Linked DNA regions of Homo sapiens: region 1 is linked to region 2. The links come from fine-mapping of genetic effects on gene expression. A gene starts in region 2. The other region holds a variant in brackets. All regions are shown on one strand. Distances are from middle to middle.

Region 1 (5,381 bases), 71 kb before region 2:
CGGCCGGGCAGAGACACTCCTCACCTCCCAGACAGGGTTGCGGCCCAGCAGAGGCGCTCCTCACATCCCAGACAGGGCGGTGGGGCAGAGGTGCTCCCCACATCTCAGACGATGGGCGGCCGGGCAGAGACGCTCCTCACTTCCTAGATGGGATGGCGGCGGGGAAGAGGCGCTTCTCGCTTCCTAGATGGGATGGCGGCCGGGCAGAGACGCTCCTCACTTTCCACACTGGGCAGCCAGGCAGAGGGGCTCCTCATATCCCAGACGATGGGTGGCCAAGCAGAGACGCTCCTCACTTCCCAGACGGCGTGGCGGCCGGGCAGAGGCTGCAATCTCGGCTCTTTGGGAGGCCAAGGCAGGCGGCTGGGAGGTGGTTGTAGCAAGCCGAGATCACGCCACTGCACTCCAGCCTGGGCACCATTGAGCACTGAGTGAACGAGACTCCATCTGCAATCCCGGCACCTCGGGAGGCCGAGGCTGGCGGATCACTCGCGGTTAGGAGCTGGAGACCAGCCCGGCCAACACAGCGAAACCCCATCTCCACCAAAAAAAAAACGAAAACCAGTCAGGCGTGGCGGCGCGCGCCTGCAATCGCAGGCACTCGGCAGGCTGAGGCAGGAGAATCAGGCAGGGAGGTTGCAGTGAGCCGAGATGGCAGCAGTACCGTCCAGCTTTGGCTCGGCATGAGAGGGAGAGGGAGACGGGGAGAGGGAGAGGGAGAGGGAGACGGGGAGAGGGAGAGGGAGAGGGGTCAAATTCTTATCTATCAATGTTATGCCCACTGTGCTCTCCAGCTGTGGTCTGTGAATTACTGTGGTATAACGTGACTGTTCAAATTTCACTTTTCAGGGGCTTTGACCACGACCTTTGAAGAGCTTCATTTTGAGATCAAGCCCCACGATGACTGCACAGTAGAGCAAATCTATGAGATTTTGAAAATCTACCAACTCATGGACCACAGTAACATGGACTGCTTCATCTGCTGTATCCTCTCCCATGGAGACAAGGGCATCATCTATGGCACTGATGGACAGGAGGCCCCCATCTATGAGCTGACATCTCAGTTCACTGGTTTGAAGTGCCCTTCCCTTGCTGGAAAACCCAAAGTGTTTTTTATTCAGGCTTGTCAGGGGGATAACTACCAGAAAGGTATACCTGTTGAGACTGATTCAGAGGAGCAACCCTATTTAGAAATGGATTTATCATCACCTCAAACGAGATATATCCCGGATGAGGCTGACTTTCTGCTGGGGATGGCCACTGTGAATAACTGTGTTTCCTACCGAAACCCTGCAGAGGGAACCTGGTACATCCAGTCACTTTGCCAGAGCCTGAGAGAGCGATGTCCTCGGTAAGTTTTGCCTACTCAGCCCTCCTCACTGTTACACTACCTTCCCCCCCTACTCCATCACACTACTATCTACTCATATTCAGAGCCTATTAGAAAGTGCTATGTGATTTAGATCACATTAACAGGTCAGAGAACTGTCCAAGGGGAGTGGTTTCCGTTCAACTCTAAATGTCTAGCTGTAGATCACATAGCTGCATTTCCCAGGTCAGTTACAAAGTGGGAGAGTGGCAAGTGTTAACATCCTTAGTTTATAGATGGAAAAGCTGAGATGCTTTATTCCTTTATTCAGCACCTCAAAGGACAATCAGGGTATCACAGAGCAGGAAAGGATAGGAAAGTCATATACTCCAGCTCTCTGTCTTTAGGCCAAAACATGACTGAGCCAATTCAACTAGTTTTGGAAATCTTCCAAGAAGGCAGTAACCCAATTCAATGTTTAAACATCCTCCAACTCTGTCAAAAGTTCTATAATAGCAAACCATCCTCAAAACCTCTTGGTGCATTATGGGAGATAAATAGCAGGTTCCTTCTAGCCCTGTATTTCATGTTTTGAGTATATGAAGAGTGAGAATTTCCCGTAACTTAGATCATGAATCTAACTTAGATTTCGTAACTTAGATCATGAATCCTGCAAGGTTTCCGCGGCTAGCTACCAAGGTAGAAGAAGAGGTTGCCTAACAAAAATGCTAAGAGATCCTGGTGAGAAGAAGGTGGGAGTAGCTGCAGGAGACGTTATACTTTCACTTGCCTTAAGTTTAATTGCATCAAAGATGAATCCGCAGATGCGATGTCAATTCGAGGCAGAGAGTATTGGGGGGCATTGAAGCAATGGGGAGCCAAGTAACGTGGAGAAGAGTGAGAGACACACAGGTCAGGAGAGAAAGAAACCAACTCTAATACTGACACCGAGGTTTCTGATGGTCAAAAGAGTTCCTGAATAAACCAAAAGTAAGTTATTAAGCTCTGAGACAACCCATTTACCAGGAAAGCTGGGGTAGGTCTTGGTTTCGCACCTTATTGTTTCAAATGACTGATATTTTGAGAGAAAGAACTACAGAACTATCTCTGAGCACAGCAGAGGAGACAGTTCATCAGTTGCTTTCCCCCACAGACAGTCACAATATTATGTGATGTATTTCAGAGGCGATGATATTCTCACCATCCTGACTGAAGTGAACTATGAAGTAAGCAACAAGGATGACAAGAAAAACATGGGGAAACAGATGCCTCAGCCTACTTTCACACTAAGAAAAAAACTTGTCTTCCCTTCTGATTGATGGTGCTATTTTGTTTGTTTTGTTTTGTTTTGTTTTTTTGAGACAGAATCTCGCTCTGTCGCCCAGGCTGGAGTGCAGTGGCGTGATCTCGGCTCACCGCAAGCTCCGCCTCCCGGGTTCA[G/C]GCCATTCTCCTGCCTCAGCCTCCCGAGTAGCTGGGACTACAGGGGCCCGCCACCACACCTGGCTAATTTTTTAAAAATATTTTTAGTAGAGACAGGGTTTCACTGTGTTAGCCAGGGTGGTCTTGATCTCCTGACCTCGTGATCCACCCACCTCGGCCTCCCAAAGTGCTGGGATTACAGGCGTGAGCCACCGCGCCTGGCCGATGGTACTATTTAGATATAACACTATGTTTATTTACTAATTTTCTAGATTTTCTACTTTATTAATTGTTTTGCACTTTTTTATAAGAGCTAAAGTTAAATAGGATATTAACAACAATAACACTGTCTCCTTTCTCTTATGCTTAAGGCTTTGGGAATGTTTTTAGCTGGTGGCAATAAATACCAGACACGTACAAAATCCAGCTATGAATATAGAGGGCTTATGATTCAGATTGTTATCTATCAACTATAAGCCCACTGTTAATATTCTATTAACTTTAATTCTCTTTCAAAGCTAAATTCCACACTACCACATTAAAAAAATTAGAAAGTAGCCACGTATGGTGGCTCATGTCTATAATCCCAGCACTTTGGGAGGTTGAGGTGGGAGGATTGCTTGAACCCAAGAGGTCAAGGCTGCAGTGAGCCATGTTCACACCGCTGCACTCAAGCTTGGGTGACAGAACAAGACCCCGTCTCAAAAAAAATTTTTTTTTTAATAAAACAAAATTTGTTTGAAATCTTTTAAAAATTCAAATGATTTTTACAAGTTTTAAATAAGCTCTCCCCAAACTTGCTTTATGCCTTCTTATTGCTTTTATGATATATATATGCTTGGCTAACTATATTTGCTTTTTGCTAACAATGCTCTGGGGTCTTTTTATGCATTTGCATTTGCTCTTTCATCTCTGCTTGGATTATTTTAAATCATTAGGAATTAAGTTATCTTTAAAATTTAAGTATCTTTTTTCAAAAACATTTTTTAATAGAATAAAATATAATTTGATCTTATTGCTCCTTGGAGATTTTTTGTGTTTGGTTTTGGTTTCTGCCAATGACATCTCACAGGTGGAAAACATCTGGACTACAGACATGTTCTACTTGAGTCTCCCATGATCGGCACACACAGTTGTATTTTTAAAATTTGTTGTCAATGTTTAAAAATTAGGAGATATCACATAAAAACCAGAATAACTTCTTTTAAAAAATCATACTATCTGACAATATTGACCTCATGCTTTTGCATGGCAAAGGTCTGAGAAGCACCTTCTTCAGATGGGACAGTGCTCTGTGGGTCACTCTTCCCCATCCGCTGTGCCCCAGCCCTGCCCAAGCCCCTCTACTGAGGCTGCTGTTGGTTGCCACTTATCACTGTGCTTGGGCAATTGTTTTCCTTATGTCTAGCCCACTTCACTTATTTATGTTGCCTGCACTGTGGGTGTCTGAATTCTGGTGATGGTCCAGAGGAGGTGGTAAGAATCATCAGAAACCCTTCCTAAGTCATAGGTTAGGGAACATGATTGAGAGGTAGGGAAGTAGGGGGCATGGGTGTGAGAGAAAAATATTTTAGAGTAAAATCAACACATCATCTTTTTTTGCTACCTAAATGCCCCAGGGGACAAAGGTACACCTCCCAAATATAGTAAAAGTTCAATATGAAGAAGGCCTTCAAATCAGTTTCTTTCTAACGAAATACGTCAAGGTAGAAGAAAAATAGTACAAAACTCAGAGAAAGCTCAGCTCCCAGTATGGAGAGCATCATTTTTCAGTGAAGAGTCCGTGATAAGCTGTGAAATTCAGATGCGAATTCAAACATTTTCAGACATTCAGAGAGTCAGAGCAACCCAAGAACTAAACTCATTATATGCATTTTCTCAAGAAAACCCTCCCAGGAGTTTCCTGGGCCTACAGAAATGGTGTGCCAACCATCTTCAACAATGCAGAGCAACTTTTTGTTTATGATTCTTGTCCTTTCTTGCTACCATCTTGCACAGTGTCAGAATCATCCTTAGAAACAGTAATAGAGGCCAATCTCCCAGAACATCCTTCACAAATTTCTTCATTCTTAGAAATTATCTTTTGCCTGTAAAAAGAAAGGAAAGATGTATCAATGTCAACTCAAAAGCTAGAAAGGGTATAGGATATTTGGAGTGCAGGGAGAGAAATGTGCCTTCGTTCCTTCACCACAGCAGTCTCTCACTCATTACTTGCAGTGGTTTTGAATTTAGTGAGGTATGGTGTTCAGGTGACTAAAGTCCTATACGAGGAATTTTCTACTAAATCAATGCAATAAATAACTTTCTTCTATTAAAGTATTGACCAAAATTTATTTTAATGATTTAAGATGCAGCTTCAGGTAACAGTACACCTTCTGATCCAAAGGTGATTTCCATAGGAACCAGAAGCAGCTGCATGTAATGGCAAGACCATCAGACTCCCAGGGGAGATGGATTTAAAAACCACCCTCAGTCATAGAACTGAGCAAACTCAGAAACTGGAAGACAAATGTCCTGTGTTGTTTTGCATAGAAACAAGGACACAGGTGAATGGGAGAAGTATAGACACATCTCCACTCCACCTCAAGTGAACTATCTGGCTTTGTGTCACTGGCCTAGAGTGACATACCTCCCTCCCGAAAACACCTGTGCC
Region 2 (5,381 bases):
ATCACTTGACGCCAGGAGTTCGAGACCAGCCTAGCCAACAGGGCGAAACCCCGTCTCTACTAAAAACACAAAAATTAGCCAGGCATGGTGGCACATGCCTGTAATCCCAGCTACTCGGGAGGCTAAGGCAGGAGAATCACTTGAACCTGGGAGGTGGAGGTTGCAGTGAGCCGAGATCTCACCACTGCACTCCAGCCTGGATGACAGAACAAGACTCTGTCTCAATAAATAAATGAATAAAACAAAAAACAAAAACAAAGAGAAAAGAGATTCACAGATGAAACTGCCAAAATGTTGTAATCGTCATTACCATATTATAAATAACATTAAACATTTGCATTCAAAAGCCAGAAAGCAGAGGTAAATTGTATGGGTGATACAATCACTCAGTGGAGTTTTACATAGATTTTCAATGATCTTTGATGAATGTGTAGTTGTTTCCTTTTCCTCTTTCCCATGATAAACAATGTCTTGGTATATATTCTTTTGCTCTTAAGAAAAAAAAAAAAGAAGGCCTCACAGGTGTGGTGGCACATGTCTGTAATCCCAACACTTTGAGAGACTGAGGTGGGAGAGTCGCTTGAGGCTAGGAGTTTGAGACCAGCCTGGGAAACATATCGAGACTCTGTATCTACAAAAAATTTTAAAAATAGCCTAGTATGGTGGAGTGTGCCTGTAGTCCCAGCCACTTGGCAGGTGGTGCGGGAGGATCACTTGAGGCCAGGAGTTTGAAGTTGCAGTGAGCTAGGACCACACCACTGCATTTCAGCCTGGGTGACAGCACAAGACCCTGTCTCTAAAAAATAAATAAATAAATAAAATAAAAATAAAGGCCTTTTTCTTTGAACACCCATGGGAGTGATACTCAAAATATTTAACAACCAGTAAGACAAGGCTATTGAATAATCAACCAGGGTTGGAACAGGGTCCTGGGAGATCTCACTCCCACCTCCATGCCAGGCATTAACCCCTTAGTTGCTGAATCATGAGGTGGTCTGGGGGTGCCAGGGGAGGAGTTGGGACAACCAAGGTGGCAAGGAGGACATGCAAGGGGCTTGGACAATGGTCATCTACCAATCAATATGACAGTATTTTATTTATTATTATTATTGTTTTGAGACGGAGTTTTGCTCTTGTTGCCTAGGCTGGAGTGCAATGGTGTGGTCTTGGCTCACTGCAACCTCTACCTCCGAGGTTCAAGCGATTCTCCTGCCTCAGCTTCCCCAGTAGCTGGAATTACAGGCACCCGCCACCATGCCTGGCTAATTTTTGTATTTTTATAACGATGGGGTTTCACCATATTGGCCAGGCTGGTCTCAAACTCCTGACTTCAGGTGATCCACCCATCTCAGCCTCCCAAAGTGCTGGGATTACAGGTGTGAGCTACCGTGCCCTGCCTATATGGCAGTATTTTAATATTTCAGTAGCTAAAATCAGCCCTTGACTTCTCATAGCTTCTTAAGTGGGAACTACTTCTAACAGATTTTTGGGGCATCCTTCCAGAAATGTTGTGAGTGCATATAACCTTAAATGTTTTGCATATAGAACTTAACCTGTAGAGAAGCATAATAGATTTTTTAAATTATTTGCATAAGTGAGAGCATACTTTGCACACAATGTTGCATCTTGTTCTTTTTGTGTAACAGGATATCTAGTTGATATTTCCATGTCATCACAGATAGATCTGCATTTACAGTGGCTTGACATCATATAGCTCTAATTATAGAGGGGTGTGTGAGTGTGTGTAAGGATTTTTTCTCCCCCTTTTTTCCCTTTCCTGCACTTCTACCTGATGATTTTACCTGAGGCTTGCCCTAACAATAGTCACCAGTGAGCCGGCAGAGGCTTCAGAGAAGTTACTGGTTAGTATTAATAATCAGTAGAAAAAATAATATAAAACATCTTTTCCAAAGAGCTTACCTTGGACTGCCCAAAGATCTGTTATTCTCATGTGGCCCAAGTCAAACATCTTAAAGAAACCACCATGTTAGAGAGAAATGGTTCCCCATCAACACAGAATCAGAGTTTACTTTAGATCAAAAGCCACTTTAGTGGCCATTCCAAGTGGTTGAAATGCCGAAGGAGAAAATTCACAGTATATGTACTGCGGGAAGACAGACTTCTAGTGAATCCAATCAAAGGCTTTTACAAAGGCTGGCCTGGCACAAACATGAATTTCCCTTCTAAAGACAAAACAGTTGAAGTTTCTCAGTATTGCAATGAAATTAAACTAGAGGAGAAGGTCACCCCACCATTCAGATTCCTGTGACTTGGGCCTGAGTTGTGAGGTTTGCCCTTGGGAGATGGCAGGCCAAAGTTTGTTTATTTTGTTGCTATGGACACAGAACAGTAGCTCCTCATTGGCTCAGGGCTCTTTTCTTCAAGAGAGAAGGTTGGGAGAAACAGCCAATTAAATTCTCCAAGACACAAATCAGTGACCACCCTCAACAGCAAAGAATTCATACTTTTAACACTGGATTTCCACTTTCGTCATCAGTCATGGGACAAAAAAGTTTAAGATATATCTTCAGAGGAAATAGAATTCAACAGCACTTTTAGGCTTCATTGGTCTATGGCAATAGTTACCAGGCAGGATCTGTGATGGATTTTTAATTCCTCTGTGATCTACTCACAGAAACCTAAAACTCTAGACACTTTTTTCCCTCGAGTTTAAGGCTTTGAAATCTGTGAAAGTAAAAATCCCCCAAGGCAGGAATCTTTTGCAGTCACAAGGTTTTCCGATTTTTTTTTTTAAATAAAGCTGCTTTTTCTTACTATAGAAAAAAGTACTTGCTTATTACAACCCAGTGGCTTTCATTTTAGTTTTACTGCCACTCATTATAAGAAATACATTTTACAAATTTTGTAATAAAAAAATTTCATGAAATAATACTCTTATTATTTGCTATTCTCTTCTATTTCTTTTTCTTCTTTAAATTAAAGCTGATTATAATCCACTAGATTGATTTCATGATCCTGGTGGGTCACAACCCCTAGCTTACAAAATATTGTTATAAATTCATCTATTCACTCAACTTCACATTTGTTGTCTACTGTGTGCCAGGCACTATTGCTAGGTGTGGGGATATACCTCAGTTCTTATACTCAATACAACTTAGAGACCAATGAGAAAACAGACAATAAAAAAGCTCAATAAAAGCATAATTAATTTTTTTTTCCTTTGAGACAGTAGCTCACTCTGTTACCCAGGCTGCGGTGCAGTGGCAGTGGCAGTGCAGGCTGCATGCATAGCTCACTGCAGCCTTGACCTCCTGGACTCAAGCGATCCTTCTGCCTCAGACTCCCAAGTAGATGGGACTACACAGGTGCACAGCACCATGCCCAGCTAATTTTTTTTTTTTTTTTTTTTTTTGAGACGGAGTCTCGCTCTGTCACCCAGGCTGGAGTGCAGTGGCGGGATCTCGGCTCACTGCAAGCTCCGCCTCCCGGGTTCACGCCATTCTCCTGCCTCAGCCTCCCAAGTAGCTGGGACTACAGGCGCCCGCCACTACGCCCGGCTAATTTTTTTGTATTTTTAGTAGAGACGGGGTTTCACCGTTTTAGCCGGGATGGTCTCGATCTCCTGACCTCGTGATCCGCCCGCCTCGGCCTCCCAAAGTGCTGGGATTACAGGCGTGAGCCACTGCGCCCGGCCGCCCAGCTAATTTTTTTGACTTTTAGTATACATGAGGCCTTGCTATGTTGTCCAGGCTGGTCTTGTACTCCTGAATTCAAGTGATCCTCCTGCTTCGGCCTCCCAAAGTGCTGGGATTACAGGTGTAAGTCACCATGCAGCCACAATGACTCATATTGAGACTTGCCAGAAGCAGTGGGAGTTCATAGCAGGAGTTACTCTTCTAGTCCAGTGAGTCAGGCAGCAGTGTTAAACAGAGAAGAGATCTGACTAGATCTACATATCAGAAAGATCATTCTGACTGCAATATAGGGAAGCAATTGGAAGGGCCAGGAAAACCAGGTAAAAGTCTGTGGCAGTGGTCGTCATGGGACCTGACGATGGCCCTGACTGAGGAGCAGCAGTGGGGATGGAGAGAAGACATGATAGAACTTGGTGATTGACTGGATGCTGGGATGAGCGAAAAGGAGAAGGTGATGATTCCTGGCTTTCCAGCTCGAGCAATTGAGTTGACCGTGGTGCCATTTATTGAGATAGGAAAGTGTGGAGGGATAAACAGGTTCTAGGGAGCAGATTATTAGTTCAGTTTTGGATATGTTGAGGTGCAGGGAGACTAATAGACAAGTGGTGACGTCTGTTAGAGTTTCTTACATATTTTAGAAGTTCAGAGGAAGATTCTGGCCTAGAAGCAGATTTAGGAGTCTTCAGAGTGGATACTATTCCAAGCCAAGGGAGCGAGTGAGATCACATATAGAGAGAGTATTGTGTAAGGAGAGAAGAGGGTCTAGAACAGAGCTCTGAGGACACCAGTATTTACGACAAGATTTCTCAGTGTGGGCCATGTGTAGTTAAAATGCATAGACCTGTTGCTTGATTGCAAGTGGCTTACATCAAAGAGGTTTATTAACCTCATGAAATAGAGTCTGGAGGCAGTGCTATCAGAGTTGGTGCAAAGATTCAGCAATGTCCTTGGAGAACTGGGCTCTTTCCATCTCTCTGTTATGCCAGCCTCGGTGTGTTGATGGAGGGAAGCGTCTTGGTTGCACTATGGCTGCTTCAACTCTGAGCACCATGAACAGGCTAGATGAAGAGAGACTTTCAAAGATTAAAAGGAGGGAAATAACTTAGAGAAGAATTGATAGACTCTATTAGTCATCTAGACAATCTGTCTCCATCCAGAGATTGAATATTTACTTTGAGTGTGTTTAATGTGTAAAATTTTATATTTAAATCCTTTCTTATGATTAAAAAAAAAAAGCAGCAGGATTTGGGTCTTGAGTGAAGCATGGCTAAAAACAGAGATACAGAGGAAGTAAGTGCTGAAGGAATACCCCAGCCACTCGACTTGGCAAAGGCTCAGCACTAATTACTACTACTTGGGTATCCCCATTCTCCTTTCATCTTTTTGGACATGAGTAAAGCTTCGCCAGTTCCAAAACAGCTGAGGAGAAGGAAATGAAGGTGTTTAGGGGCTAAGTGTTAAGTGCTCTTCTCTTGGATGAAATTGGGGAAGTGCTGGCATTCTCAGTAACTTCGCCTAAAGCAAAGTGTCTTACTATTTGGAACAGAGGTGGAGGAGGCCACCAATAGTAAAACAAAGTATAAGTTGAAAAATGAATGAGAGAAACTGCAACTTAATTCTGACAGCAATATTATCAAAATTGGTCTGCACAGGGCTTGGGGAAATAGATATCCTCTTGTGTGATGCTGCAGCATTCACGAAGTGGCAAACATGGTCAGCTGGGAG

Direction of the effects. Alleles are on the strand shown, and positions count from the first base shown. SD is a standard deviation of normalised expression in the study named.
In carriers of allele C in region 1, the expression in testis of the gene that starts at base 2,284 in region 2 tends to be lower than with G alone (moderate effect, 0.42 SD a copy in GTEx).

Evidence for each region. PIP is the estimated chance that this variant, and not a neighbour inherited with it, causes the effect. A credible set is the group of variants that fine-mapping cannot tell apart.
Region 1: its variant is the best candidate, but not a certain one, in a credible set for the expression of FLACC1 in testis (GTEx, PIP 0.57).

The regions. Positions count from the first base shown.
Region 1 is chr2:201,283,967-201,289,347 of GRCh38, forward strand. It overlaps CASP8 (caspase 8), which reads left to right. Exons shown (of 9, transcript NM_001372051.1): 8 at 850-1,351; 9 at 2,493-3,743. The coding sequence ends at 2,628. It overlaps FLACC1 (flagellum associated containing coiled-coil domains 1), which reads right to left. Exons shown (of 15, transcript NM_001127391.3): 15 at 4,305-4,815. The coding sequence ends at 4,689. Among named protein-coding and RNA genes, the nearest start is that of CASP8, 26 kb to the left of the region's middle. RefSeq lists an enhancer at 4,464-4,608 and a cis regulatory region at 4,536. The variant G/C (reference allele first, on the strand shown) is at 2,750.
Region 2 is chr2:201,355,062-201,360,442 of GRCh38, forward strand. FLACC1 (flagellum associated containing coiled-coil domains 1) reads right to left here and starts at 2,284. Exons shown (of 15, transcript NM_001127391.3): 1 at 1,921-2,284.